3 separate regions of the Homo sapiens genome follow, and all the other regions are linked to region 2. Evidence: fine-mapped expression QTL. A gene starts in region 2. Each other region holds a variant in brackets. All regions are shown on one strand. Distances are from middle to middle. Region 1 has its middle 24 kb from the start of LINC01583. Region 2 holds the start of MEX3B (mex-3 RNA binding family member B). Region 3 has its middle 220 kb from the start of TMC3.

Evidence for each region.
Region 1: its variant is fine-mapped to the expression of MEX3B in tibial artery (GTEx, PIP above 0.99).
Region 3: its variant is fine-mapped to the expression of MEX3B in whole blood (INTERVAL, PIP 0.94).

What each region holds. Positions count from the first base shown.
Region 1 is chr15:82,107,609-82,118,050 of GRCh38, reverse strand. No RefSeq gene overlaps it. Among named protein-coding and RNA genes, the nearest start is that of LINC01583, 24 kb to the right of the region's middle. RefSeq lists a silencer at 9,297-9,376. The variant A/G (reference allele first, on the strand shown) is at 5,687.
Region 2 is chr15:82,041,930-82,052,371 of GRCh38, reverse strand. MEX3B (mex-3 RNA binding family member B) reads left to right here and starts at 6,354. Exons shown (of 2, transcript NM_032246.6): 1 at 6,354-6,922; 2 at 7,759-10,442. The coding sequence starts at 6,667. The coding sequence ends at 9,212. RefSeq lists silencers at 5,105-5,424, 6,275-6,574 and an enhancer at 5,105-6,051.
Region 3 is chr15:81,590,286-81,600,727 of GRCh38, reverse strand. No RefSeq gene overlaps it. Among named protein-coding and RNA genes, the nearest start is that of TMC3, 220 kb to the right of the region's middle. The variant C/G (reference allele first, on the strand shown) is at 4,363.

The sequences.
Region 1 (10,442 bases), 66 kb before region 2:
TCCCAGGAATTTGAATGGGGAAGTCTAGTGATAATTAGCCAGTTGGAAGAGAGAAAGGGGGAGAAAAGAGAAGCACCCCCGGGGGAGGCGGAGGTGGAGAGAGTTGTGAAGTCACTAGACTGAAGCCGTGTGCTCAGCTTCTGCTGCTGAGTCCTCTGGCCTCCTTTAACCCTAAACACGTTTCACTTTCGCCTCCCAGCAACTTGGCCATGCTGCACTCCCAACACTGGCGCCTGGTGACTCTTCTTCCCCTAGGTTCCCGGGAGGCCTGGCTGCACAGACAAGATCCTGTCCTCCTCGTTTCCCTGTGTCAGCTTAAGCCATCTCGACCCCCTTCCATATGGAAAGCTGAGTGATGTCTGCTCTTTCCTGAAATAGGCACACATGGAGGCTACCTAGTTCCGGGCCATTCTGACTGATTTAGCCAAAGTGCTTTCTCCAGAAGAAACCTAACATGGATGTTCCAGTGTAAAAGTTGTCAAAGTGGAATTGCCCTGTTTCACGACCCTCAAACCTGGGCCCAAAAGTAGTCGACTGCTCCTGGTGGCGTCCATGGAACCCCCAGGGGGTCTGTGGAGCACATCTGAAAATCAACAGCTGTAGATCCCTATTGGGTGACACCCTCAGCGTCTCCCTGGAATGCACCGTCTCCTTTGCTGGTTTCTGAGAATCACATACATGCACACCATATCCAGTTCCACTGTCACCAGCTGTAGGATTCAAGCAGCCAGTTTAGTTGGCTGCTGACTCCTCACCAAGCTCTCTGCATCTGCAAGAATGAGGGTAATTAAGGTGACTTGCATACATGTGCCCCAGATCCCAAGGTCTTCTCTAGAAAGAGAACTTAGGCAGACACTTTGATGCAATAATAAAGTCCTAGGCCAGGGGTTCTCCAAAGATGCTGGAGTCTCCTGATCAGCAGCCTCAGCATAACCTGACAGTTGGTCCGAAAGGCATAGTCTCAGCCCCACCTCAGACCTAACAAGTCAGAAATGGGACAGGCCGGCCATCTCTCTTGCTGATTCTCATGAGCTCACCTGGGATTTGCCTTTCAGATCTGTCTCCTGGCCCAACCTTCCATGAACTCGTTGCAGGCTGCAAGCACACACTGGAAAGCTGTCTTATGAAATCTCTGAGCCCCTGGGAGATGAGACAGTGAAGTTTCCTTCCTCTAATACAAAGGGCAGCCCAAGAGAGAGTAGAGGCCACCTCTTCCATGCCTGCCCAGAGCACAGCTTGGTCTCAACACACCGTGTGCTCTAGAGAACACAGCTCCATTTTTATACCTTGAGGGACTCACCTCTAAGATACTGTGAGAGAACTGAGCAAAAATCATGGCCCCCTTTCCAAGAACTAAAGGTCATGCAATAGCAGATGGGTAGGAGGCAAAGGGATGGGATTCCTTCTGTTTCCCCATGACAGTGTGGCCTGGCAAAGTTCAACTTACACAAATGGTACACTTTCCAAATCTTACCACTTTTGGGAAAATATGTATACACACACACACACACACACACACACACACACACACACTCTTATTAAATGTAGAGACCCAGCCAGGCACGGTGGCTCACACCTGTAATCCCAACACTTTGGGAGGCGGAGGCAGGCAGATCACTTGAGGTCAGGAGTTCGAGACCAGCCTGGCCAACATGGTAAAACCCCATCTTGGAAATAGAAAATTAGCCGGGCGTAGTGGTGGGTGCCTGTAATCCCAGCTACTCGGGAGGCTGAGGCAGGAGAATCGCTTGAACCCAGGAGGCAGAGGTTGCAGTGAGCTGAGATTGCACCATTGCACTTGGGCCTGGGCAACAAGAGTTAAACTCCATCTCAAAAAAATCTAAAAAATAAAAATAAAACGTAGTGACCCTTGGTTACCTTCCCTCTGGATTTTAATATTACTCATGTACAAGAAATATAGATCTTAGAGAGCCGATACCCTCACACAGTTTTGGCGGGGATAGAGATGAAAAGAGCACGCTGATGTTACCTAATATTATAGAGTCTTTCTGAGATATGTGCCTGTCTCACACAAAGTGTATTTACTCTGCCACATTACGATTCAGCTCTTTTATGATAAGACTAGTAACACTGATAATAAATATTGTTTTTGAGCTCCTACCCTGTGCCCTTATACCATTCTAGGCACTTTATTTTTTACATGGCTTGCCTCTGTTAAATGTCACCGTAACTCCCAGATAACCTCTTCTGATAGCTGGGAAAACCAAAGCACAGATTGGTTTATAAACTTGCTCACACAGCTAGCATCAGAGAGACCTGGGATGTCTCATCATTTCTGTTCTCGTATCAAAGAGGGCCCTTGTGAGCCTCTCAGTTGCCCGATCCTAACACTGGTCAATTGGAATCTACTCCCCAATGTTCCAAGGAATGGATGTCATGAACCATGGCAGGTGGCATGGATGCTGGAATCCAGAGTGGTCCAGGTGAGGCCTCAGCCATATGCAGCTTGGCCTCAGACTTTGCCTCCCCATAGGTTATGATGTTGGGGCTGCCATCTTTCACCAAATAGGAAAATGTTTGATCAAATCTTTCTATAATTACAAATTATTGTTCTCACCTGGAAAACACACAGACACAGAGGGGCAAGCATTATTGATTATTTGACTATTGGTTTTTCTCTCCTTATCTTTATCTATAAAGTTGAACTTTTAAAATTGGGGTAGAAAGTAATTATTCCTCCTTTAATTCACTCTGTTTTTAATTTGGTTCTCTAAGATTTTGGCTGCACCCATGGTCGAGGCAGCCAGGTGAAGGGGTTGAAGACACCAGAAAACGCATTACTTGCTGTAACACAAGAAGTCTGTAATTCTCTCGGGTCATCTTAGGAGAGTCTTCCCCATGGGTTGCGTGTCCACACAGAAGGCTGGCTCCAAAAGACCTGGCTGCTCTAGCTCTTGGCAAATGAGAGAACTCACACAATAATAGCAGCTGCCATGCATTGAGCCCTTAGGCGTTAGGCACTCTACCAAGCATTTAACAATACTCCAAAATAATTAATAATTTACTATATGCCAATCATTCTAATGCCTCTTGACAATTGTCTGACGTGGGTGCTCACCTTACATTTGAGGAAACTAGATACAGAGAGGTTAAATAAGTTGCACTTGGCAGGTGGAGCTGAGGGTGAGGCCAGAGATGACAGGGTGGTCATAGAAGCCAGGGTGTGGGGCGGGAGGTGGCAAGTGAGTCTAGGCTGCTTGTTGAGGCCCAGGTAGCGAGGAAGGCATAAGGCCATGAGGGGCCGGAGAAGCCAGAGAACCAAGAAGGCGGGATGTTCTCAGTGAGGTGGAAAGCAGGTTTGGTGGCAGGAGGGACTGGGAGAGGCAAGAAGAAGGCACAAAAGGAGGGCTAATCTTTGGAGAATGTTGACCTCCTCTGGGAGATCCTGCACTTTCACCTCAGTGAGAATAATAATCAACTGCTCCCCATTTCTGATACCCAGGGTATTACCCACCAGCATCATGCTGGAAGGGATAGGGAATATGGTCTAAGCCCCAACAGGGCTTCCTCCAAGGCCATTCTTGTACCCACAGAAGATGGGAAGAGTGTATAAAATGGTCCATTTTGAGTCATCCAGTCTAACCCCTGATATGGAGTCCATGGGGGAGGCTTGGAGTGTTGTGGCCCCTCCCCCTATTCCAGGGGCTTCTCCTCCTCAGGTGCTCACACTTACCAAGCCTGGGTTCTCAGCCCTTGATTCTCAAGGCCACCAGCACCATCTCCCTTCTCCTCCAGCGGGTTGATCAGAAGAACCGCTTCTCTTGACTTCTGTGTCTTTTCCCTGGTCCCCTCAGACCCACGTCCTTTTATTCTCACTCCTTCCTCCTCCTGAGTAGGCTCTCCGTCCTTGGCTGCATCTGGAACCCCTAATGCAGCCTGCTGTGGATCCTGCAATGGTTGGGGAGAGGAGGAAAGTGGCCTTGGGGTGGCATTTGCAGACATAACCAGGTTCACAATCCTGCGGGTACTTCCTGTGCCCCTTAAGGAAGGGGCTGCCTCACTATCCCAGATAGATGAAGAGGGAAGGAGGAGGGAGAGAAACCCATTCTGACACGTAAGAACTGCTCTGTGTGCCGGGCACTGTGCTAAGGGGTTTACATGCATGACTTGAATTTCCTGCCCGGTGATTGGTAAAGTTCAGATTCAGACCCAGGCCCTTTGGCTTTCTAATGCAGGGCTCTCACCCCACTGCAGCCCCTCTGGGGAAATGAGAAGGAGGTGACAGAGCAGTAAGTGTGGTGGGAGGGCCCGCAGGTGCAACTCATGGCTATTCTAGCTGTGGCCAGAGAAGCTGTCCAGTGTGGGGTCAAGCCCAGGGGTGGACAGAGTTAGAGGCCTAGGCTAGATGTCAGCTGGGGGTGGTAGGATATAAGAAAGAAGGGAGGAGGAGAGAGTAGAGGGAATGGGGATGCCATGGGTGGTTTGCTTGGAAATGATTCATGGATCAGCACTTCCAGGAGGAAAATGCCCCATCAATCCTATCTCAGTGACAGTATTGTTTCCTTCAGATCATAAGCCAGGGCTCTGGTACAGCTTCCCCTATGTGAATAGAGGGAAGCAGAGGGCTAAAGACAGACCTGGCCTGGCAGCTGCTCTGCATTTCCCTTCCTCAGAACAAGACACTGAGAATGCCTGGCTTGAGGTTCTCCCCACACTGCTCCACTCAGCTGGTGTGAGTGGTCCTGGAACTTTCCTGGCTTTACAAATGGGTCCTTTGTTTAAGACTCAGAACAGGAGCACTCAGCTGGTGATGATTTTGTCCCCCAGGGACATTTGGCAATGTCTGGAAATACACTGGCATCCAGTGGGTACAGTCTGAGGAGCTACTAAACATCCTGCAATGCACAGGACAGGCCCCCTGTGACGAGGAAGTATCTGGATCTAAATGGGGTGGGAGGAGGGGGCAGAGAGGCTTTCCCATCCTGTTTGATTCCCACAGGCTTCCTGGTGCTCTGTCCTGAAGGGCATGGAGGTGCTGGGGGGCTGTGCCTAATGGTAACCACGGCCCAAGGCAGAAGTGGAATCGTGGCCTTGTGAATGGCCGCCTCTGTGCTCACCTGGTGAGTGGGGCTCCTGCAGGTATTTAATATGTTTCCAGTCTGCCTTCAGCTTTTCTGGAGCACAGGGAGCGACTGGGAAGAGTCCTATGCCCATCAGTCTGTCCAAACCCCATCATCACAGGGAGAGGGTTAGGGTACTTAAGGTGGAATTTCCTGACAGTGGAGGCAAGCAAACCAAAGAGGGGCTGAGTGGAGAAGCTGTGCTCCCTCGGCTGCCCAAGGGGAAAAGGCATAACTTGGAAACCCGAGAGAATCAACTAAAGGACAATTCAGCAGATACATACTTCGGGACTGTAAACCAAGCTCCTGTTTGTCCCAAGACAATGTGAAAACCACAACATTTCCATCAAGTTAAAAAACAAAAAACTTTCCTGGCACAGCTAGTCATGAACAGCTCCAACCCCGACACCAGAACATTATGGTGGCACCTGCCTGTGTCTGCAGCCCTCTCTGCCTGGCCCCAGGCCTCCAGCAAGAAGGCCGGGCAGGGCTGAGCCTGCAGAGCTGCCTGAAGACTAAAAGCTGGATGGAGAAGGGACTTTATCCCTCAAGTGGATGGCTTTCCAAGGGTTGGACTCACACTGTTGCCTCTTGGGCCCTGCTTG[A/G]GGGCAGCGCCATCTAGAATAGTGGTGAGGTCTCCCGGACGGAAATGTAGAAGGAGAAAATACTTTCTTTGTGGCTCATCTCTCTGCTCCTCTGCAGTGTGGCTGCATGTCGCCTGCTCTGTGTGGCTGCCTTGGGCGCCTGGAGGGTCTGCAGAGCCGTGCGTCACTGCATATCTAGGCTTTGTGGCCGTTCATTCCTGGACCTGCTCACCGCACCGCACAAGGCAGTTTTGAAAAAGGACTGAGGCTGCTGAAATGTAAATGGGAGACGTCTGGTTCTCTCTGTGTTCTACATTGGGAAACATATGGTCTGAATTAAGACATTTGAGATGGTTTTTAAAATGCGCTGCTCTGGGTGAGAATGTTGATTGGATCCTGCATCCAGGAAACCAACTGGAGAAGACATTTTAGACACCACTGGGGAAATGTGAATAGGGCCTGAGTATTAGATGATACTATGGTTTGAATGTTTTTGTCTCCCCTAAAATTGATGTTGAAACATAATCCCCAATGCAACAGTAGTAAGAGATGTGGCCTTTAGGAGATGGTTGAGTCATGAATGGGAGTAGGTGCCCCTATAAAGGAGTCTGATGGAGAGAGTTTATCCCTTTTGCCCTTCAGCCTTCTGCTGTGTTAGGATGCAGCGTTCCACCACTCCAGAGGACTTGGAAGCAGACAGCAGCCCTCACCAGACACAAACCTGCTGGCACCTTGATCTTGGACTTCCCAGCCTCCAGAGCTATGAGAAAATAAATGTTTGTTCTTCATAAATTACCTAGTCTCAGGTATTTTGTTATAGCAGCACAAACAAGCCAAGATAGATAATATTAAGAAAATTGACTGGGCGCGGTGGCTCACGCCTGTAACCCCAGCACTTTGGGAGGCTGAGGCAGGCGGGTCACCTGAGGTCAGAAGTTCCAGACCAGCCTGGAACAACGGTTTAGTAGAAACCCCGTCTCTACTAAAAATAAAAAAAATTAGCTGGACGTGGTGGCACGTGCCTGTAGTCCTGGCTTCTCAGGAGGCTGAGACAGGAGAATTGCTTGAACCCAGGAGGCAGAGGTTGCAGTGAGACGAGATCGCACCACTGCACTTCAGCCTGGGTGACAGAGTGAGACTCTGTCACAAAAAAAAAAGAAAAAAAAGAAAAAAAAAGAAAATTGCAGTTAATTTTGTTAGGAGTGATAACAGTATTTTAGTGGAGTAGGGAAGTATGCTTATTTTTTAGAGGTACAAATTGAAGTATTTGGGGGTAAATTGTCATGATAATGATAATTTACTTTATTTATTTATTTATTTATTTTGAGTTGGAGTCCTGCTCTGTTGCCCAGGCTGGAGTGCGGTGGCGTGATCTTGGCTCACTGCAGCCTCTGCCTCCCAGGTGCAAGCAATTCTCCTGTCTCAGCCTCCCAAGTAGCTGGGATTACAGGCGTGCACCACCAAGCCCGGCTAATTTTTTTGTAATTTTGTAGAGATGGGACTTCACCATGTTGGCCAAGCTGGTCTCGAACTTCTGACCTCAAGTAATCTACCCACCTCAGCCTCAAAAGTGCTGGGATTACAGGCGGAAGCCACCTCACCAAGCCGATAATTTATTTTAAAATACATCCTCTCCAAAGGATATTATACGGTTCTCCTTACTTTTCCTGTATGCTGAAAATGTTCATAATGAAAAGTAAAAACAAAACTCAAAGACCCTGGAAATCCTGTTTCTTTATCTGAAAAAGTAAATGCTGCCCTAACTTTGAGGTAAAGGCAGAACAAGCATGACATGGGGAAAGACCAGCTCTCTTCTGTGAGGGCTGGAGCCTGCACCATTACTGTTCCGGCCTCCCCAACCTTCGGTGCTAGACGCATATCTGAAAATGAATGGAGAATTCGTTGCCCTGCAAAGAAACTGTCACAGATCATTCATCCATTCATTTATTCCGCTACTTATTTATCCAGTCATTCAACAAATACTGATTGAGGATCTACAGCTTGCCAGTGTCTGTGCTGGGGGCTGGGCACACAATGATAAGAGAAAACAGGCACAGCCCCTGCCCCTGTGGAGCTTAAAATCTTATCAAGGAAGCAGGTGTTAAAGAACTGCAAAGATAAATGCAGAAGTTACAACCAAAGAAAATGAGTAGCATTATAAAAGAGAGTATGAGAGAGAGGAAAATGACCAAGCCAAGAAGATCTAGGAAGCTGAGTGTGACAGGAGGAGAGAAGGGAGGTGCGGAGGCCTGTGGCCAAAGGCAGCAAGGCAGCACTGAGGGCTGGAGTCTGGTGTGGCTGCAGTGAAGGGGGAACGGGAGTGGCTGGAACTGGAGAAGGTGCAGGAGGTAGAGGCAGAGACGCCTGGTCCATGGGCTACTTCTGGCTTTTCTCTCCCGGAGTATGGAGATGAACCTGAAATTTGTCTTCTTCCCTTGCCGACTTGCCCCATCCCAGCTCCTCACTGCTCTGCTCGGCCTTCTGAGCTTCAGATGCACCCTCCACCTGACCCTTACTAAGTTAAACACTCTGTGGCCTTCATCATGGGGTCACCTCGCCCCTTAGCATGGCAGGTCCCTTCCACTGGCTCTTCTGGCCCTTTCCATGCCAAGGGAAAGCTGTGGAGCTCTAACCCAGACCTCTCCACCCCACTGGGTCGGGTCTCCATTTGATTCTGGCTGCTCCGTGTAAACATGGCAGCTCCATACAAGGGGGTCTGTACCCAGAGTCCCAGCCCAGATGACATGCACAAGCCCCTCCACTGGTGGCGTCACCTCAAGACATCCTAGGCCGGGCGCGGTGGCTCACGCCTGTAATCGTAACCCTTTGGGAGGCCGAGGCGGGCGGATCACGAGGTCAGGAGATCGAGACCATCCTGGCTAACATGGTGAAACCCTGTCTCTATTAAAAAGACGAAAAAATTAGCCGGGCTTGGTGGCGGGCACCTGTAGACCCAGCTACTGGGGAGGCTGAGGCAGGAGAATGGCGTGAGCCCAGGAGGCGGAGCTTGCAATGATCGGAGATTGCACCACTGCACTCCAGCCTGGGCGACAGAGCGAGACTCCGTCTTTAAAAAAAAAAAAAAAGACATCCTCACCCCACCCCACCACATCCTGGGACTTTGGCTGAGGAAGCCACGATGCCTGTGTCTCAGCCATTGCTTCTCCTCCTCTGTCCCTCTCCCTTCCATGGTCCATCAAAGGGAAATAGCAGGATTTCTACTTCTCCTTCCCGTCTGGGAGAATCTCCTCTTACTCAATGCCCTTCCCTTCCCTTCCCTAGGCTGCAATCCCCTTGACTGCTAGGGTGTCTTCTCTACATTCTAGAAGAACTTTAGGGCTGGGGCCTACTCGGCTTGGCACTAGCCATCACCCTGGATAAAAATATACTGACTTAAGATCCCCCAAGATCGTATCCTTACTAGAGCAAAGCGTTCAATCAATAGCAGCTATTGTGATCATTCCCTTGTCTAAAGAAGGTTTCTCCTAGACTCTCTGGAATACTTCCTGTTTAACTCAAGACTCACCCTCATGTAAGACTTTGCCTCTGGGGTCCTCAGTTGAGTGACACCAGTCCACACCCCCAAACCTTCAGCCTCTAATGATAGAGCCCGGAGATCTCCCCCAGCCCATGTGCCACATCTGCCTCCTTTCTGCCGCTGAGGTTCACCTGCGCAGCCCCAGCCCCAGCCCCAGCTCTCTGCTCCCCTCTGGTGGAGCCCTGCCGTACTGCCCTGCCTGGCCCCTGGCTGACTTCATGAGCTGGAAGCAGCTGCCAGCAACAGCCACTTGGCCCTATCAGAAAAATGTGAGGGAAGTTAAAGACCCAAAAAGGTGGGCCTTATCACGTAAAATGAAGACCTACAGAGGTGCTTTCGCCCTAATTTGTTGACAGGATAAAAATAAGGACGGGGTGGGAGAGGAAACTCATACTTATGAAGTCCCTGTAATGTGTTAGGCCCTTGCTATACACTTCATGTATGTTGTTTCATGATAGAACTGTGAGGCAGGGCCAGGTGCGGTGGCTCACACCTGTAATCCCAGCACTTTGGGAGGCCAAGGCGGGTGGATCACCTGAGGTCAGGAGTTTGAGACCAGCCTGGCCAACATGGTGAAACCCCGTCTCTCCTAAAAATACAAAAATTAGCCGGGCATGGTGGCACATGCCTGTAGTCCCAGCTACTCGGGAGGCTGAGGGAGGAGAATCACTTAAACCCGGGAGATGGATGTTGTAGTTAGCTGAGATCGTACCATGCACTCCAGCCTGGGCGACATAGCGAGACTCCACCTCAAAAAAAAAAAAAAAAAAAAAAGAACTGTGAGGCAGGTACTCATGTTTGCAGAGGAGGGAGATGAGAGTTTAAGTGACCTGCCTGAGACCAAATAGAGTGAAAGTGGCAGAGGTGGGATTGAAACACAGGACTGTAGTCTGCTGAATAAAGGGGTGACACAGGCCTGGCATGGTAGCTCACGCCTGTAATTCCAGCACTTTGGGAGGCTGAGGCGGGCAGATCATTTGAGGTCAGGAGTTCGAGACCAGCCTGGCCAACATGGTGAAACCCCTTCTCTACTAAAAAATACAAAAATTAGCTGGGTGTGATGGTGCGTGCCTATGGTCTCAGCTGCTGGGGAGGCTGAGGCACGAGAATTGCTTGAACCTGGGAGGGGGAAGTTGCAGTGAACTGAGATCGCGCCACTGCACTCCAGCCTGGGTGACCGAGCAAGACTCCATCTCAAAAAAGCAAGAAAGCAAGAAGGAAAGGAAGGAAGGAAGGAAC
Region 2 (10,442 bases):
GCTGAGGCAGGAGAATGGCGTGAACCCGGGAGGCGGAGCTTGCAGTGAGACGAGATCGCGCCACTGCACTCCAGCCTGGGCGACAGAGGGAGACTGTCTCAAAAAAAAAAAAAAAAAAAAGGATATTCGCCCAGTGGAACAACTTTGGCTGCTGGTCCCTCCTCTGTCTCCCCCAAGCAGGGTTATATAGTTCGTTGAGACATTCCCTTCACCAAAAGGCATTCCTCAGCTCAGGGAAAGGAAAGTGGAGAGGAATGGTGAGTGAGACCGTCTTTAAATATCCTGAACTACTGCCCCCTTCCTTATTGTCTACTATCTACATTTGGGGAGTGATTCTCTTAGCAACCTCTCAGGTTTGATATCAGCAATACTGACTCATGATACTACCCCAAAGCCAAAGCATGAAACATGGAAGGTGTTCACTAGGGACAATACCAGATTTCCTTAAATCACAAAGCAACAGAGCACATCACACTGGATGTCTCACTCTGGCTTCCTGCCCGGCTCCATATCAACGGGCAATTGACGTTGGGGGGAGCCATTTCCTACTCTGGCCTTCAGCTTGCGGTCAGCTGAGTGTGTTGGACCACACACTCTCTAGCATCCTGCGATTCTAACCTTCTATGGATTTCATCAGTTTTATAGATATGAGTTCAGCCTACGACTTTGGGAAACAAAGGATTCAACTGTAAAAAACATTTGAATTCCACTGATCTATTTTATCTCTGCTCAGGAAGAAAAAATGGCACCTTCTTCCTGAAGTTTGTGTTTCCGGTCTCCTTGATTTCTGAGAGATTTTAAAATTACTTTCTATTTTTCTTACTCTGTTCTGATATTGCAAAATGGTTATTACCAATTATTAACTAAGTGATGTTTAATTTTAGAAGTCAAGCTACTTGTAAGGGCCCATATAAATGTGTGCTAGGATTAGCTTTAGATTTGTTTTCTGCTTCTATTTACAGCAAGGACAGGACTGGGGAGTGGTTTTATTTTATTAAGCTTTTTAGCATGATTTAATTTTTAAAACTCAGGACGTATTACTTTAAAAATTAATCGAATAAAGATGTATGTTCATAACTTGAACCACACAGAAAAGTAAAATACAAATAAAATTGTGATCTCATTACTTAAAGAATAACCATTGTTGGCCATGTGCGGTGGCTCACGCCTGTAATCTCAGCACTTTGGGAGGCCAAGGCGGGCGCATCACTTGAGGTCAGGAGTTCAAGACCAGCCTGGCCAACGTGGTGCAACCTCATCTCTACTAAAATACAAAAAAAATTAGCTGGGCATGGTGGCGTGTGCCTGCAATCCCAGCTACTTGGGAGGCTGAGCCAGGAGAATTGCTTAAACCCGGGAGGCCGAGGTTGCAGTGAGCAGAGATTGCGCCACTGCACTCCAGCCTGGGCGACAGAGCAAGACTCCATCACAAGGAAAAGAAAACAAGCATTGTTAAAATTTTGATGCAATTCCTTGTAGCCTACTCATTCACTGTTTCTAATGCTTACTAAGTGTTTAGTAACACATACATACACACTGCACACACACACATTGTCTCCTTCTTCACTCAACATAAGGATAGCATTTCCTATATTATTAAAATATTTTTAAAAATGTGTGTGTGTTACATGTGTTATATGTCACACACACTTTTAACCACACAAAGACACAGGAGAACATCAAAAATCAAGATGCTTTCACGTCCCCTCACACATGTGATCCTTATAATCCTGTGTGAGAAGCAGGACTGGAAATATTTCCAACTTCCAGCTGAAAATGCATAGCTCAGAGACAGGAAGGAACTTAACGTTGGTTAAGATCACAGGCTCGGGGTACCACATACCAGCTGTGTGACCCTGGGCACAATAATGGATCTAAGATTTGTGGGGCGCGAAGCCTGTATCATTTTAGGGGTTCTCCTTAAAGAAAATAATAAAACATTTACCTGTGAAAATTTTAGTGATTTCATGTGATCTTGTAAGTATATTGCTAGGACCTCTTCCAGGGCCTTGGAAGGGTCTGTGTTAAGTGAGGAGCCCTGTAGCTTCATTTCATCTGCTTGGAGGCAAATCTGCCTTTATTTGGGTAAGTGACTTATTTTCATCTGTAAAGTGGGGATAATAAAAGTGCTTGCCTCTGAGTAGTTAGAAAGATTAAACAAGATACTGTATTGTAAAGCATTTTGTAAACTTCCTGGCACATTGGCACATAATAAGTGCTTAATAAGGGTCACCTGTGATTACTAATTTTATTCAAAATCATGTCATTGTGGCTGGTGTCATTTGAGCTGCTTCCCAGAGACTGAGCGATTCCTGTACATACCTAAAGTTACACCTTCAAGATGCTGCAGCTTGGCTCACTCACTCATTTAATAAGCATTTAGGAGTTCCTGCTAGATGCTATGCACTGTGCTAGGCTCCAGTCTCAATTCATTCTCACACCACATTCACTGGAAGCACAACTCAGGTATCCCCTCCTCTGGGAAGCCCTTCTAGGACCCTAAGCCGACTCACTACTATCTGGGCACTTATCTCTCTGTGTGACTGGGTTTGGACATCACTAGTATTCAAGGAAAAGACATTATCCTGCCCCTCTGCCACCTTTGTTCATTTCAGTTCAGTATAATCGATACTTCTCTCTGTGCCTATAATACAGTATGGAGGTGCTCAATAATCTTAAATGAGTTGACTGAGCATGTGTTTGTTTTCACAGGAAGATTTCCGTTTCTTTTGCAAGCTATTTAATTTGCAAAAGTAAGCAAGATGTGCACAAAATAGTTTTGAGACATCTGGAAACAAAACAAGGTTGCCTCATCATTAATCTTGTTTTTGTGTGATAACTTTACTTTTTCTCATTTTATGACAACTGAAATTCTCTATTATACTGCCAGACCTCATTCTGCAAGCTTCTCTCCTGTGCTAATAAAAAATATTATGGCCACATCGAGAAGTCCTTAGGGAATGTGTTCTGCATCAGGAAAAGTAATTAAGCTCTGGGGTCCTAAAGGAGCCTGGGAAAGTCTATCCAGAAACTATGGGGTTAGGATGTATTATCTATTGAAAAACAGAACCGGACTTTGCAAGTTTTACAATATCTTGGCTTATTAAAGCCACTAACTGAGAATTAAAATTTCTGGATTGTTACTTTTACAACAGCAGTCAAGTGTCGGAAAATATCCTGACCAGTCAGTAAGGTATACAAATAGAGAAGGCAAGGAGTAGCTGTGAGTAAAGCGCCAACTACATTTGCTGAGTACCTGGGAATTTACGAGTTAGCTTTTGCTATCATTATCCGTCTCGCTAAAGCAACCCTATGAGGTAGGTGGGAAGCTGGATGCCGTCCTCTTTTGACAGCCAACACTGAAGAACAGCTGGGGCTGGAAACTAGATCTGTCAGACATAGTAACTGCTTCTATCACTCTCACCACCCTCCCATGCTCTTGAGAGTGCCTTCGCTTTTGTGGGTGTCTTCAGAAAAGCATGCGGATCTCTGTATAGGTTTTACTCAAGTGTTCCTCTCTGTGGAGGGTGACCTGGGCTACATGAACATGGGCACCTCAGGATCGGCAGCTTTCCATGAATTCCTATGGTAAGGGGTTCAGCTTATCCTTCATGTGGGTGAAGATGTATGATTTCATTGAACATTGGCAGTTACAGCCAAGTACAAGTCCTGCCTTCAGGATCCAGCAGGGAAGAATGACATTAAACATGTCACCTTGGAGAAATGTTGCATTCACCTTCCGGGTAATGACCCAGCCACCCAGGGACTCCTCTGAAATATCCAATCCTCTAAGTTTAAACACGTTTCAGAATTAATCCATCTGAATTCTTATCGCTGTAGATGCAAGGAGAAGGAGTTATGGCAGGTCTGAAACTATTAGCGGCCAAGCTCCCTAGCAGAAGCAACCTCTCCCTACACCCCATTATCCGTGCACAGCTCCTTATCAGCGGAGGAACAACTTTACTGTCACCATATTTTCTACTTGGAAAAAAAAAAGAAACCTCAGCAGGCCCAATCCGAAGGCTATGAAATTTCAAAGAAACAGAGCTAAGAGGCGAGAAACTAGCCCTTTGTGTTAAAAAGATGGAAATGCTCCAAGCGCCTTTCCAGTCTGCTTTCTGTTTACAGGCCTTGCGTGAGCGCGGGAGGCTGGGCCTCATCTCTGGCTCTCCCCAGCCAGGACCCCTTACTCAAAACCCTCCATCTCGGCAAGAACCCTCATTCCCAAGTTAGTTGGATTCCAAGTCCATAAACCGGGTCAAAAGAATACAGTAATTTCCTACTGGAGCTCTAAGTGGTGGTTTTCACGGAGGACTCGGCACCATCCTCCCACCTGCCTCCTCCCATCGAACATTCCTTTTTAAGAAAAACACACACCAGGCTCCGGGAAGCTGACGTAAACATCCTGAGGAAATAACCACTGTAAGTGGCTTCTAAACCCATTTCCCCAAGGAAATAATCAGCACCTCTTTCCCAAGACAGCTCCAGGTAAGCAAGCGGTGAAGGGAGCTGCACCACCGCGTTCTCAAAAGTAAAGGCGCTTGCGGAACTGTCTACTGATTTGTAAGCGCGCGCCCATCCACTGTCGCATTTAATCTTCCGAACGACCCACGAGGTGGTAAAGGCGGGGATTATTTTCTTCATTTTACGGGTGAGAAACCGAGGCCCACAGCGCTCGTTCCTGTAGCCGGGGTCAGGCAGGGCACACCTAGGGGAGCCTCTGCCTTCGAGCCCCGGGACCGCCCCGCGGCACCACGAGATCTCCCCAGTCAGCCCGTGTGCGGCTGCGGCCGCATGGCCTCATTGTTTTGGGAAGACGTCCCTCTGTGAGGATCTTGGGCGACTCTATGAACCGCGGGCCCAGCCGCTCTGCGGAACGATCCGCAGCGGGACGCAAAGGGCGCGGCGAGCCCGGCGGCTCCCGGAACAAAGGACAGCAGAGCGCGCGGGGCCCGAAGGGGCGTCCGCCCTAGTGGGCGGCGGAGGGGGATGCGCGCGGAGAGGACCAGCGCGCACCGCCCCGGCCCGCCCCTCAAATCCTCCTTCCTTCTCTCTCGCACTCGGAGACGGTCCCTGGGAGATCCGGGAGGGGGCGCAGCTCGCCGTCCTCGCCGGCAAGTGCCGTCGCAACCTCCCTCTGCCGCCACCCCCACCCCGAGAAGCGCACAAAGAGCGGCCGGGCAGGGAGCGCTCACCTCCCGTCGGGGCGGGGCCGCGGGCGGGGCCGGCGCGCGCTCCGCAGCGCCCGCCTTAAAGGGCCCGCCCGCTCCTCGCGCGCACTGCGCATGCTCGGCCGCGGGGCACGGAGGGGAGGGATGGGAACAGCGGGCGCGCACGCCCGCGCCGCCCGCTGGCGCTGTGGCCTGCGTCCCCGCGGTGGCGGCGCGGCGCTCGTGCGCGTGTCAGAACCCGCAGGGTCTCGGCCCGGGCGCCGGGCGTGTGCTGGACACTGGTGCCATGCATTCCAGAGGTCGCCAGCGGCCGGGCGGGCCGAGCTCGCGCGGCAGCCAGCTTTTAGCTTTCCCATCCTCAGTTTCAGGGCCAGTTGGGCGAAGTGCTGCCCAAGGAGACAGAAATGCAGGCGCGGGCGCGCGCGCGCGCGGTTGCCAGTGTGGGCGGGCGTGTGCTTTTGTGTCTCGTGCGCTCCCGCGCAGGTGGACAACCCGCGCCGGGAGTCACTCTGCCCGTGCGCCCCAAGACCTGGAGTCCCGTTTTCCGTGTCGGAGGGCTCGGGTCGCCCTTTTGGGCGGACTACAGACTCTTCTCACAGAGGAAGCTTTGGCTCCACGGATGGTTTATTTGGAGCCACTAACGGGACTTCCTGAGGACCGCTCTTTTAGAGCCCGGCTCCAGGCATCAGAGTTGGGCGCGTTTTCTTTTCTCAGTCAGGCGAGGGAGGAGACTTAGGGACAATGATTGTCCTCGGCTGATAGGTACATCCAAGTGTCCCGAGCCTGCCAGTCCCGCATTAGACAACAAAGAGAGGCGTTAGCGGCGGCGGGGGAGGGGCGCGGCCGGGAGGAGGACGGGGCGGGCTGCGGCGAGCGCGGGGGTGGGGGGTGGCGCTCTCTCTCCGCTCGCTCAACCCGCGGCCTCCTCCCGCCCCCGGCCTGGCGCGCGCCAATCGCCTCCCCCAGCGATAGTGTCAGTAGCATTGTGGTGTCAGCTCCCGCCTGTGACGTTGCGCCTCCCTCGTCCCCCTCCGGAGTCGTCTGGCTGCAGAGGCTCAGTCAAGAGGCGGGGAGGAGAGGAGGAAAAAGCGCTGAGTGAGGGCGGGCGGGCGGGCGGGAGGGAGGGAGTGGAGGAGCCGGGGAGGGGCTCCTTAAAGAAACGCTTCTGTCGCTCGCCTGCTCGCTTTTCGCTCGGCATTGCGGCCAGCCAGCCGGGCACTCGGGGGGCACGCGCGGCCACCGCTAGAGCTCTGCCCCCACCCCACCCGCCAGCAGGTCTGGGGTGGGGACCCAGGTGGGGGCTCCTGCAGCCACTGCCCGGTGCGGACCGCACGGAGCGACCCACTCCTCCCAGCACCGAGGAAGAAGCAACGGAGCCCTCAGCAGGCGACCGGCCTCCCCGCCCCTGACCACCCGCTTCCCGGCTGCCTTTGTGGCCGCAGCTTCTCGCCGCCGAGCCGAGGGCCGGCGGGGGCGCGGCGCGCACGGCCGAGCGATGCCCAGCTCGCTGTTCGCAGACCTGGAGCGCAACGGCAGCGGCGGCGGCGGCGGCGGCAGCAGCGGAGGGGGAGAGACCCTGGATGACCAAAGAGCCCTGCAGCTCGCGCTCGACCAGCTCTCCCTGCTGGGGCTGGACAGTGACGAGGGCGCCTCTCTGTACGACAGCGAGCCGCGCAAGAAGAGCGTGAACATGACCGAGTGCGTGCCAGTACCCAGTTCTGAGCATGTCGCCGAGATCGTGGGGCGGCAAGGTAGGTCGAGGAGGGATGGGGAGGTGGGTGGGGGTGGTGTAGGGTCTCAGGCCACTGCCTCGAGGGGAAGGCGTGTTCAGTATCGGGATCCGCGGCGTGGGGTGCCTTGGGGAGAGAGGAAGAGCCGCGCGATGGGCCGGCGCCCCAGACAAAGAAAGTGCAGGCAGGCTGTCTCCCGGAGCCGCGCCGCTGCCCTGGCGGGATGCACTTTCTTCTGCTAAAATCACTGCCTTCTCCCCTAACGCCCCCCAACCAGCCCACCTCCAGAAAGACAATTTAAATGTAAGATGCTTGGGGGAGGGGGCCTTTGATCAGTCCTTTGGGAGGAGGAAGGAGGAGGAGTGAGCATAGGATGGGAGGAGGATTCTGGATTTCTGCAAAGCGGAATGGAGCCCAGAGGAGGAACAATGGGTCCCGGGACTCACACCCCACCCCCTACCCCCAGTCGACCAGCGCTGAGGCATCGCGACTTCAGCTGCCTTCCCCGAGCCCCTTCCCCGTGTCTTCAGAGCTGACGGCGCGCCCAGCTGGATCCCAGCGGCATCTCCCCAGATGACTTTTCTGGGATTCTCGGGTTTGGTTCGGGACGACTGCAGTCACTGGGGGAGGGCCAGGCAGCCAATGGGCTGTTCCTCGAGCGCCTCGCGGGTGGGATCCGCTGCCCAGCCCGTGGCGCGGCCCGAGGTCAGTGAGGGAGACGCCCCCTTTCCGCCCATCTCTTGTCCTGCCGTCTCGCTGTCCTGGACGCGGGCTGTCCCCGGTCCCCGCGGTTACCCCAGGATAATGGGCGTGTCTGTCTCTCTCTCCCACTCCCTCCTCCGCACCCTGGTTCGTAGGTTGTAAAATCAAAGCGCTGCGGGCGAAGACCAATACTTACATCAAGACCCCAGTTCGCGGGGAGGAGCCTGTCTTTGTTGTGACGGGCAGGAAGGAGGATGTGGCCATGGCTCGGAGGGAGATCATCTCTGCTGCCGAGCACTTCTCCATGATCCGCGCCTCCCGGAATAAGAACACGGCACTCAACGGCGCGGTGCCTGGGCCGCCCAACCTGCCCGGGCAGACCACCATCCAAGTGCGGGTACCCTACCGCGTGGTGGGGCTCGTGGTGGGGCCCAAAGGCGCCACAATCAAGCGCATCCAGCAGCAGACGCACACGTACATCGTGACGCCCAGCCGGGATAAGGAGCCGGTGTTCGAGGTGACCGGCATGCCAGAGAACGTGGATCGCGCTCGAGAGGAGATTGAGGCGCACATTGCTCTGCGTACCGGCGGCATCATTGAGCTCACAGACGAGAACGACTTCCACGCCAACGGCACCGATGTGGGCTTCGATCTGCATCATGGGTCCGGCGGGTCCGGCCCAGGCAGCCTCTGGAGCAAGCCCACCCCCAGCATCACGCCCACCCCCGGCCGCAAGCCTTTCTCTAGCTACCGCAACGACAGCTCCAGCTCGCTTGGCAGTGCTTCCACAGACTCTTATTTCGGCGGCGGGACCAGCAGCAGCGCAGCGGCTACCCAGCGCCTGGCGGACTACAGCCCCCCTAGCCCCGCCCTGAGCTTTGCGCACAACGGAAACAATAACAATAACGGCAATGGGTACACCTACACAGCGGGGGGAGAAGCCTCAGTGCCATCCCCCGACGGCTGCCCCGAGCTGCAGCCCACTTTTGACCCGGCTCCCGCTCCCCCACCTGGGGCACCACTTATCTGGGCCCAGTTCGAGCGGTCCCCGGGAGGCGGACCTGCAGCTCCGGTATCTTCTTCCTGCTCTTCTTCTGCATCTTCGTCTGCTTCTTCCTCCTCCGTGGTCTTCCCCGGGGGTGGCGCCAGTGCGCCCTCCAACGCCAACCTGGGGCTATTGGTGCACCGCCGGCTGCACCCTGGCACCAGCTGCCCGCGCCTGTCTCCACCCTTGCACATGGCCCCGGGGGCGGGAGAGCACCACCTGGCTCGCCGGGTGCGCAGCGACCCGGGTGGAGGAGGCCTGGCCTACGCCGCTTATGCCAACGGGCTGGGGGCACAGCTGCCTGGCTTGCAGCCGTCGGACACGTCGGGCTCCTCCTCTTCGTCCAGCTCCTCCTCCAGCTCTTCATCCTCTTCCTCCGGGCTTCGGCGTAAAGGCAGCCGCGACTGCTCCGTGTGCTTCGAGAGCGAAGTGATTGCCGCGCTGGTGCCCTGTGGCCACAACCTCTTCTGCATGGAGTGCGCCAATCGCATCTGTGAGAAGAGCGAGCCCGAGTGCCCGGTCTGCCACACCGCGGTCACTCAGGCCATCCGCATCTTTTCTTAAAGGCAGCGGGCGCTGCTAGTGCGCACCGTGCTGGGGGAAGGGGGAACCCCTCCCCACCCTCTTTCCCCAGCGCTCGCCTGCCTCCCTGGGTGCCCCCCCTCTCCCTTCTCCTTCCCGGCCCCACCAACACTCTGAGATCCGAGAGGAGCTTGGAAAGCTGTAGTATCCGCTCATTTTTAAAATTTAATTTTTAAGTAAAGGAATTTGCCAGGATATCTGCATCAAGAGTACTGTAGCCTGGGAAACCTGAACACCTGAAATGCATGCTCTATAAATAATAGGAACGGCGACATTCTAGTAATGATAGTTTTTACACTGTACTTAATAGGAAGCTTCCAAAAGAAGAAAACCCCACAAGTTTTCCATTTTCTTAAAGTAGGAAAAAATGAACAGTAATAATTATGATGAAGATGATAGTAGTGCTATGGGATGTGTGGACTGTTTAGTGTGTTCCCCTTTGTGGGTGGGTTCCTATGATACTTATTATAGAACACAGTGGATCCTTTTTGAATGTTCGTGGAAGGGCCAGGAGTTCCTGTGAAACCAGGATACTGCAGCTTTATTAAAGTTAAAGAAACTGTAACATATCTCTTATATATTAAAAACGTTTAAAAGTTTTAAAGAGAAATTGCATTAATACAGATTGAAGTATTTTATTCTTTTTTGACTTGAAAAATTATATTTCATATTGCAAAGATGTTTACAAGTATTTTAATTTAAGTTCAGTGAACTTTTTTGTAGCTGGGTTAAATCTTTTTATTTTAGTATGGCCTTATGGCAAAGAACACTGTATTATTTTAATAATCACACAATTGTGACGGAATTACAACCATAAAATGTGTAATGTTTTGAACAGTATTCTGTTGGGATGGAGATTTTATAGGTTCAGACAAATCTTCTAGATCTGCTTCACCCAGCATATTTTCTATTCAGTGATATAAAGCATATTTTATTCTATATTATTACAAAAACGGAAATGTATAAACATGTCAAAAAGAACTGTTGATGCTTTCTAACATTTGTATAAATAGAATTCAGTGCAAGTTACAAAAATTCTGTTGCACCACTCTAGTTTTAGTATTTCTATTTTAATACATTTGTTTACCACTTGTTTATGTATATGTAGGTGATGTTACTTGAGCTTAAATGTACTTTACTGAGCAAAGTTTAAAAAACAAAGTATATTTTATTTTATGATAAAGGGCCTTTAACCTCATGGTCAAATACTAA
Region 3 (10,442 bases), 450 kb after region 2:
CAGTTTTCCATTCCCTGCAGAAAATTTTAAGCTTGGCTTTAATCTCCTTTATCATGGTAAACATGGTTATGTTACAGGATGTGTCTGATAAGTCTAATATCTGGAGTACATGTAGACCTGTTCTATTCTTATGTTTCTCTATAGGTCTCATTTATATTTTATGGTCTTCTTGGATTTCCTGGTTATCTTAAATTTGATACTGGATATTGCATGTATAAAACTACATTTAGAAATAATTTGAGGTCTAGAGTGATGTGATCCTCATTTGGAGAGAACTTGTGTTTGCTTTTGCCAGGTGCTTTGGGGGCATTTGAAGAGTGGGATATTTGCCACAATGATAGATGAGAACAATTGGATCTCATAGCAACTGCTGAATTTTACATTTTTAAAAACTAGGGGAATATCTGATTAAATATTTTGTATCCACTAAAAATTTTGGACAATGCAGACAAGAAGGGAAAAGATAAATAACCAACGGCCCTACCATTCATTAACAGCCGTTAAATATTTAAATATTTAGTTAAATATTATATTTGATTGATAAAAAAACTGAAATAAGAACTGGCTTACAGTTATACTACTGGTTAGTGGTATAAGCAAAGGTAGAATCTTCTAGTACACTATTGTCTTCACTACGTAAAACTAATTTATGCCCCTAAATTAGGTTAGTGAGGAATGTACCAATGTGTCTATAGTGTTTTATTTATTTAAATTCATAAGATTATCTATTTTTCTGTTTGAAATATATATGTATGTTTATGTGTGTACCCACAATATTTTGAACTTTTTTTTCTTATGCATTTTAATACCATTTTATTTTCCCCACTAGTCAAGGAGCCGAGACAACTTACTAGATGAACTAGTCTCAGGGTAGAAGAACAGAGCCCAGGCCCTAGAATAAAGACAACAGGCATGAATGGAGTAGCTGAATGAATTTGTTAGACTCGTTTAAATAATAGATTTTTAAAGCCAACATTTTCAATTGAAGAATATAAGTCTTTAGTTTTGTTTGATTATTTGTTTTTGAGAGAGAAAGAGAGTCTTTTGAGACTAAACAGACCAAGAACTCTAAAGAAGGAAGGCATAAATTTTCTATTAAAAAAAAACCCTCAATAGTTTAGAAGAGAATGCATGCTGTTAAAAGATTTAATTTCTACCCAAAAGGAAATAAAAATTCAACATTCTGGCAGGAGAAGGACATGCTGCCTCACAGAAGAGTTTGGCAAAAAATTCCAAAGGGTTGTAAGGAGAACCTGAGAGCAAAGGTGATTTACGTTTTGCTTCTTGGAGTGGCTTCTGTGAACCTTTCTTAGAGGCCCGCCATCCTTTGTAAAACCAGAGGAACAGAGTAGCAATGACTAGATGAGGTGCTCAGAGCAGTGGGGCACTTGCAGAGTCCTAAACACTCAGGACTGAATCACAGCACCCATGGAGGTAGGGCTTAAGGCAAGGAGACATTGTGTATGCAGGTGGCTCTCAGAGCCCATAGAAGAATGGTGCACATCAAAAATGAATGTTACAGATAAATAGTTCAAGGGAACAGGAAGGAGATCAGCAATTAGACCCATAGAAACATAATTTATCTTTGACAGAGGAACAAAGGCATCACAATGCAGAAAAGAGAGTGTTTCCAACAAATGATGCTGGAACTACTGGACACCCACACGCAAAAACACGAACCCAGACTGACCTTACACCCCTCATAAAAATTAACTCAAAATGGATCATAGACCTGAATGTAAAACACAAAACTATAAAGCTTCTAGAAAATAACATAAGAGAAAATCTAGGTAACTCTAGGTCTGGTGATGACATTTTAGATAGGACACCAAAGGCACAATCCATAAAAGAAATAATTAATAAGCTGGACTTCATTAAAATTTTTAAAACTTCTACTCTGTAAAAGACAATGCCAAGGGGATGAGAAGATAAGCCACAGACTGGGATAGAATATTTGCAGAATACATTATCTGATAAAGGATATTATCTGAAATATACAAAGTATGCTTAAAACTCAGCAATAAGAAGATAAATAACCCAATTAAAAATGGGCAAAAGCCTTGAACAGACAACTCACCAAAGAAGATATGTAGAAGTAAATAAACTATGAAAACATGCTCAACATCATATGTCATTAGAAAATTGCAAATTGAAACAAAAATGAGATACCATTACACAGCTGTTAGAGTGGCCAACATACAGAGCACTGATAACACCACAAGTTGAGGCAGTAGAGCAATGGGAACTCTCATTTACTGCTGATGGGAAAGCAAAATGGTACAGTCCCTTTGGAAGACAGTTTGGTGGTTTCTTACAAAACTAAACATACTCCTGCCATATGATCTAGCAATCATGCCCCTTGGTATTTACCCAAAGGAGCTGAAAACTTATGTTCACACAAAAATCTGCACACAGATGTTGATAGCAGCTTTATTCACAACTGCCAAAACTTGGAAGTCAAAAACATGCGCTTCAGTAGGTGAATGAATAAATAAACTGTGGTACATCCACACGATGAAATATTATTCAGTGCTAAAAAGAAATGAGCTATCCATCCATGCAAAGAAACAGAGGAAACTTAAATGCCCATCACTAAGTGAAAAAAGCCAATCTGAGAAAGCCACATATTGTATGATTCCAAGTCTATGACATTCTGGAAAAGGCAACATTATAGATACCATAAAGAAGACCACTGGTTTCTGCGAGTTTGTGGGCAGGAGGAATAAATAAGTGGAGCAGAAGGGAATTTTATGACAATGAGGCTACTCTGTATGATACTAGGTGGTTGCACGTCATTGCAATTTGTCAAAACCCATAGAATGTGTAATACCAAGAGTGAGCCCTAATATAACCTGTGGATGTTGGGTGATGAGGATGTGTCAATGTAGGTTCATCAATTATAACAATGTACCATTGTGGTGCCAGATGTTGATAGCTGGGGAGGTTGTGCGTGTGTGTGGGGAAGTGATGATATAAGAGTTCCCAGAACTTTCTGCCTAATTTTGCTGTGAACCTAAAACCACTCCAAAAAATAAAATCTATTAAAAAACAAAACAAAACCAAAAAAACAATGTGTCTGGGCAAGCCTGTAATCCCAGCACTTTGGGAGGCCGAGGTGGGTGAATCACATGAGGTCAGGAGTTCGGGACCAGCCTGGCCAACATGGTGAAACCCCATCTATAGTGAAAATACAAAAATTAGCTGGGCATGGTCGTGGGTGCCTGTAATCCCAGCTATGCAGGGATTCCAAGTCCCTGAGGCAGGAGAATCACTTGAACCCCGGAGGCGGAGGTTGCAGTGGGCTGAGACCATGCCATTGCACACCAGCCTTGGCGACAAGAGTGAAACTGCATCTCAAAACAAAACAAAATGAAAAAACCAAAACAACGTATGTCAAAACAATTTGCCAGAGACTATTTCCAATGAGTAACACTTCATGGAGTCCAATCTGAAAGGAGAAGGATTGTAGACTGGACACCCCATTTACTTCGGTGTCAAGATTCCTTTTTCTTCCTCACCCTCAACCCCAGAATTTAGGCCTTCCTCAGGGAGAAAGGAAGATGAGAGAGGAGCTGAATTTTGAGAATGTTTCAAATGACTGAATGGTTACCCAAGAGACTAAATCTCAGACCTTGAGTTAGCTAACTTTTCTGGTATCAGCAATACTGAGGACATGAGAGCTGAAATAATTGAATAGAGTTCAATTACAGAGAGAAATAAAGAATATTGTACATCTGGGTTTTGTCACTCTGCACATTCAAACATACCACACGTGTTTTCAAGTTACATGTAAAAGTTTGATCTTAGAAAAAGAATTCTCAGGAACATGCACAGAGCTTATCCCAGCAAACAGCATTTATGAAGTTGCATCTGACAGGTGAGACACACCTCCCTTCTGGCATCTTCCCCACCTGTAAGGGTGAATTCACTCCTTTTTCATTGAACATGCCATTCTAATGCACAAAGTGCACAGTAAGCCTCACAAGGAGGGCTACTTAAATTTGCATACCAAACAATCCTGACATCTAGAGATGTCTTGTGGTCAGTCAGCACAGAGACAGAAAAATCTGGGCCAGTGACCCAGATATTGAGAGACTCACTCCTCTGAGGGATAAGGCTGCACGTGGCAGACTGGAAAGCAGTGAATTGAAACCTATTTCCTTCTACATTTCTCTGGAGACAAGATGGTAATATACCAGGGCCATGGTCTTCCTGTCTTGATATCTGTGCTCATCCCAAATGCACAAAAAAAAAAAAAAAAAAAAAAGACAGCTTCAGGAGACAGATCTTTGGACAACAAAAAGATCTTTAGATTAGATCTATCTACGCCGGAACAGGCAGGTGGGCTTCAGTCTTTGAAAA[C/G]CAGAAGCTACTATGCATGAGTTGTTGTTCTCATAACTGAAAATCTAAAAATATAAGGAAATTCATTTTAATACTGACAGATTGGAAAACGGAAGGAAGAATTTAGAAAACTCAGAAATAGTGTCAAAGAACAAGGCAAGAAAGGCTCAGTAACATGCTCATAATTAGATGAAAAACGACGTGCAAGCTCCAGGGATTTTCTCCCCTGGAATCTTCTCTCTCCATGGAAAACCCACACAAATTGGCTGTGTACCCCTGAGAGCAAGGCCAGGATCAGGGAGCTATAATTGTTGTTTAGAGACAGTGCTAAATGCAAGACCAGGTTTCACTCTTGGCCAAAGAAGTGACCTTTTTCTAGAATTTTACTGTATGGTACATGCCCTCTAAGTACAGGAAATGTTAGCAATGGGCAAATAAATCTCATGCTCCGGCATGACTGGAATAATGGCTGAAATTGAAGGGAGTGACAGGCTGTAGGCTGTTATTCAAATGAGGGCAATATAGCCAAGTGGTGTAACATGGCTTGCTAGACAAACATAATCATCAGGAAAAGCTGCAAATCTATAGTTGAGAGATGGCTACAAGTAAAGAGAGAGTAAAAGGGAGAGAAAGGCTGGGTGTGGTGGCTCACACTTGTAATCCTAACACTGTGGGAGGCCAAGGGGAGCAGATGGCTTGAGCTCAGGAGTTCGAGATCAGCTTGGGCAACACGGTGAAACCCCATCTCTATAAAAAATACAAAAATTAGCTGGGTGTGGTGGCACATGCCTGTGGTCAGAGCTACTCGGGAGACTGAGGTGGGAGGATTGCTTGAATCCAGCAGGTCAAGGAAGCAGTGAGCCATGATCACTCCACTGCACTCCAGCCTGGGTGACAGAGTGAGACCCTGTCTCAAAAATAAAATAAAAATTAAAAGAAAGAGAGAGAGAGATACAGTGCATACTTAGACCTCAAGCAGTTAATTAGACAGGAAATACTGGTGAAACTTTCCTCAAGAAATGAAAATAGAGTAAGAATGGACAGGAAAGTAAGATGTAGTAATGATATCAAGCCATGGAGGGAACAGTAGTAAATCTAACACTATTTTTACACAAAGATTAGATAAGTTGTCTGAAGGGAAAGGAAAGAAAAAAAGAAGATATTTGGGCAGATATTTGATACAAAGCTCAGGGTGATAGGTTAAAAAAAAAGTTGGTTTCAATTGGAAGTGAATTGAACAGAAAATGAAGCACAGAGTTGGTGAACAAGCAGAGGTCCAGTTCGCAGACTTGAATGATGACTGATTCCAAAGAAAATTTCTTTTTTTTGAGACGGAGTCCACTCTTGTCGCCCAGGCTGGAGTGCAATGGCATGATCTCAGCTCACTGCAACCTCTGCCTCCTGGGTTCAAGTGAACCCTGGCTGCTTCAGCCTCCTGAGTAGCTGGGATTACAGGCGCCTGGCACCATGCCCAGCTAATTTTTGTATTTTTAGTAGAGATGGGGTTTCACCATGTTGGCCAGGCTGGTCTTGAACTCCTGACCTCAGGTGACTCTCCCGCCTCAGCCTCCCAAAGTGCTGGGATTACAGGCGTGAGCCACCGTGCCTGGCCCCAAAGAAAATTTTTAATCACAATACTTGTAATCAAAGACAAGCCAAAAGATACTACAGAAGCAGGATGCACAATAAGAAATGCCTTATGAAGGAGAGTGGGGAGCGACTGGCAGAGATGGCAAGCTATGAGCCTTGAGAACATCTCCTGACAAACAGTTGCTGGCAAGAAGACTCAGGGATTTTTATTTCATACTGGTAAGGATTTGATAGCCCTCAGACACAGTTCTTTCTGGGAGAGCTCTGTAGTAGATGAGCCATATATCTAACCAAGAGAGATATGAATATCATTTTCCACTGCAAATCTGTCTCCATTCAGAGATAATATGGCATTCTCTTAGAGCACGGCCTGAACTGGGCCATGATTATTACTAACACTTATAAAGACATTGAACATCAGAAATTTTTTTAAATATCAGTGCTTTTGTCATCTTTGGGGTTGTACACATCACAAGTGGAAATAGCATCCTCCCTTAGTTGTATGAGTTGTGTTATGGCACAGGTGGAGCTTCTGAACCATGAGCATCTACCCTCACCATGGGTTTGACCAACCAAGGGATATTAGTTTCTCCCTTTTCTCATGGAGGTGGCAAAGATAAAACATAAAAGCTGTGCTTGGGCATAATAAAAACTTACAGGGCTTTACTTTCGTGGAAAATGTGACCCATTACAAATGCTGACCATGATACACTGCCCCAGGGACCTTCGCTCTTCTCCATTTGGGTGAGATGCTGCTGATTCTGTTTTGACCCTGATAGGTGTTAAGTACCAGGCTCTGAAATACAATTATCACCTCCAGGTCAGCATACCCTGTAGGTATTTCAGTGAAGGATGATGAGGACCCAAGCTCTTCGTTAAACTCCAGCCGACCTTCACACAATTGAGGACACAAGCCTCTTGGTTGGTGCTCATATTATATTATGGAGAGAACTATCATTTCCTAACAAAAGTCAAGCAAAACCCTGAAGAGACTTTTCACCTCTTCCACCTATCTCAGCGAAGAACACACTGTGCTGATTATTTTCTATTTGGCCTCCTACCCCTACCCACATGAGATGAGAGCTCTTCTCTCCCTTCCTCTGCCATTCTCTGCCTTGCTCTGGGACTTAAGAGACTCCCCCTAATGGCCTGTATCATCTAGGTACCCGTATTCACCAGCTTCTCATGGGATCGACTAATGGGAGGCACCATCAAGAGACAACGCAGAGCTAGAGCAGAGAGAAACGCAGAGCTAGAGCAGAGAGAAACGCAGAGGTAGAGCAGAGAGAAACGCAGAGCTAGAGCAGAGAGAAACGCAGAGCTAGAGCAGAGAGAAACGCAGAGCTAGAGCAGAGAGAAACGCAGAGCTAGAGCAGAGAGAAACGCAGAGCTAGAGCAGAGAGGAGTCGCAGTTATTTCTTCCCCACTTGCTCCCAACTTAGGCACAGAGATACTGAGAGCAGTTGTGTCTTTCAGGGACTACAGCTTTTGCCTGAGTTCCTTCTCCTCAGCTCCAGCTCTCAGTGGACTTTGATACCATGACCCAAACCCCAAGGTAACCTTGTGCTCCTTTAGGCCTCAGACAACAACAGCTTCCTGCTCTTGTTACTTTCTGGGTACCCCAACATTCGCTGTTGGTTCTCTCCCCACATTCTGTCTTTAATAAACTTCAGCTGTCTGGTCCTGTTGCAACCCTGACTCGTACAAGCCTCTATCCCTGCTATCTCAGACTGTTTGGGCTGCCATAGCAAAAATACCATATACCGAGTGGCTTAAACAGCAAACATTTATTTCTCACAGTTCTAGAGACTGGCAAGTCCAAGATCAAGGCACTGGTAGATTTTGGGTTTGGTGAGGGCCCTTTTCCTGGTTGATAGATGGCTGTCTTCTTGCTGCATCCCCACATGGTGGAAGGTGAGAAGGAGCTCTCTGGGGCCTCTTTTATATGGCACTAATCACATGCATGAGGGCTTCACCCTCATGATATTAATCACCTCTCAAAGGCCCCACCTCCTAATACGATCACATTGAGAATAACGATTTCAACCTGTGAGTTTGGCTGGGTTGGGGAACACGCAAATTCAGACCATAATACCTGTCAATAGGGAAAATAAGTGAGAATACCCTGCTCTCTTAAAATGGAGTTTTTATTCTTGCAAATGAGTTTTGTTTGGAATCTATGTTACTCCTTGTACTCAGAAGTGAATACTTTGCCACTTTCTCTAACTAGACAGTTTTATGAGAGAATGGAAAGATAAGGCGAGAGGAGAACTTCAGAAGATTTCTTTTCGAGTCTTATATAATTATCAGGCTTGGGATTTCTCTAAAAGCAGATAGCCAGCTGTGTGAATGCCTATCCTTTGTTCTTTTTATCCCTGGGATCACTAAGACCCTTATCAAAAGAACATATTCAAATAAATCCATCAAATCTCTTTGATTTGGCACTTATTTTTAAAGAGAAATAAGAAAGTTTGGAACATCCTTCGCCAATTTAGGTATGGAAGTTTTATTGATTTCAACCTAATACTTAGAGCCTGTAAATATTTTTCAAGTGACTGCTTAATAATAATTTTATAGGGCATAACAGAAATTATAAACTTATGATTGAATCATCAGTTTGTATCATAATTGCAGAAATATTTTATTATAAATTTTAGAAACTTTATACCCTCATCCCCACTACTCCCAATTTTTTCCTAGACTTTCTTCTACTCACTGTTGGCATGCACATTTGTTTTTGGCAGGCTATGGGCTATCTTTGTAAATATGCACATTTCTAGTCTGCTTTTCCTCATAAAATCTTATTTCATAGGCAGTTTTCAGTAACATTTATTTTTTATTTTTAGTAGCTACATAATATTCTACCAGGTATTATTATTTGCCCATCTAATGCCACTCATGAGTATTTAGGTTATTTCCAATAATCAGGCTGTGATGGTTAATTTTATATGTCAACGTGGCTGGGCCACAGTGCCAATATTTGGTCAAACATTATTCTGTATGTTTCTGCAATTACGTTTTCAGATGAAATTTATATTTAAATTGGGGGAATCTGAGTAAAGCAGGTTGTCCTCCATAATATGGCTTGGCCTCATCCAATCAGTCAAAGGCTCAACTAGAATGAAAGACTGACCTTCCCTGAGCAAGAGGGGATTCTGCCTGCAGATGGGCTTTGAGTCTCAACTGTAACATCAGCTCTTCCTTGGTCTCCACCCTCCAAACCCATCCTTCAGACTTTGGACTTGCCAGCCTCCATCATCACATGAAGCAACTCCTTATAATAAATCTCTTTCTATGTATACGTATCCTGTTGTTTCTGTTTCTCTGGAAAATCCTAATGCACAGGTAATCCCTAGAAGTAAACTTTTTTTTTTTTTTTTGAGGCAGAGTCTTGCTCTGTTGCCCAGGCTGGAGTACAGTAGTTCTTGACTCACTGCAAGCTCCACCTCCTGGGTTCAGGCCATTCTCCTGCCTCAGCTTCCGAAGTGGCTGTGACTACAGGCACCTGCCACCATGCCTGGCTAATTTTTTTTTTTTTTTTGGTATTTTTAGTAGAGAGGGGGTTTCACCGTGTTAGCCAGGATGGTATCAATCTCCTGACTTTGTGATCTGCCCACCTCGGCCTCCCAAAGTGCTGCGATTACAGGCGTGAGCCACTGTGCCCAGCCCCCTAGAAGTAAACTCTTTAGAAATCCAGTAGAATCATATTTGCTGCACTTGAGAATTTGAGAACTGTTTCTCTCTTTCTTGATTAGAAACATCATGGGATTAGGTCCACAGTTGGCTCCTTCCAGTGGGTTTGTGGTTGCTGACTTCAAGAATGGAGCCAGGGACCTTCATGGTGAGTGTTACAGCTCTTAAAGGTGGCACAGACCCAAAGAGTGAACAACAGCAAGATTTATTGTGAAGAGCAAAAGAAGAAAGCTTCCGCAGCATGCAAAGGGATCTGACTGGGTTGCCCCTGTTGGCTGCGGGGTGGCCAGCTTTTATTCCCTTATTTGACCCCGCCCATGTTCTGCTGATTGGTCCATTTTACAGAGTGTTGATTGGTCTATTTTACAGAGTGCTAATTGGTCCATTTTACAGAGTGCTGATTGGTCCATTTTACAAACCTCTAGCTAGCCACAGAGCACTGATTGGTGTGTTTTTACAGAGCACTGATTGGTGCATTTTACAAACCTCTTCTAAGACAGAAAAGTTCTTCAAGACCCCACCGGACTCAGAAGTCCAGCTGGCTTCACCTCTCAGGATGACGCTTAAAGTGATTATTCTTTTGTACATAGAGAAATGACTTTTTGAGGCTTATGGAATCCATCAAAATTTTGTTTAGAAGTTTCATATTATAACATAATATTGTGTCATAATCCAGTATTTTCTCTTAATATTGTTTTCTACTTTAATTTTTCTGTAAGTAAATTATTAAAATGTAATTAAAATTTTAAAGAAGAAATTAAAAAATTGCTAATATAGGATTAACTGCAATGAAGATGGAAGAAATGGTTGGTTCTATT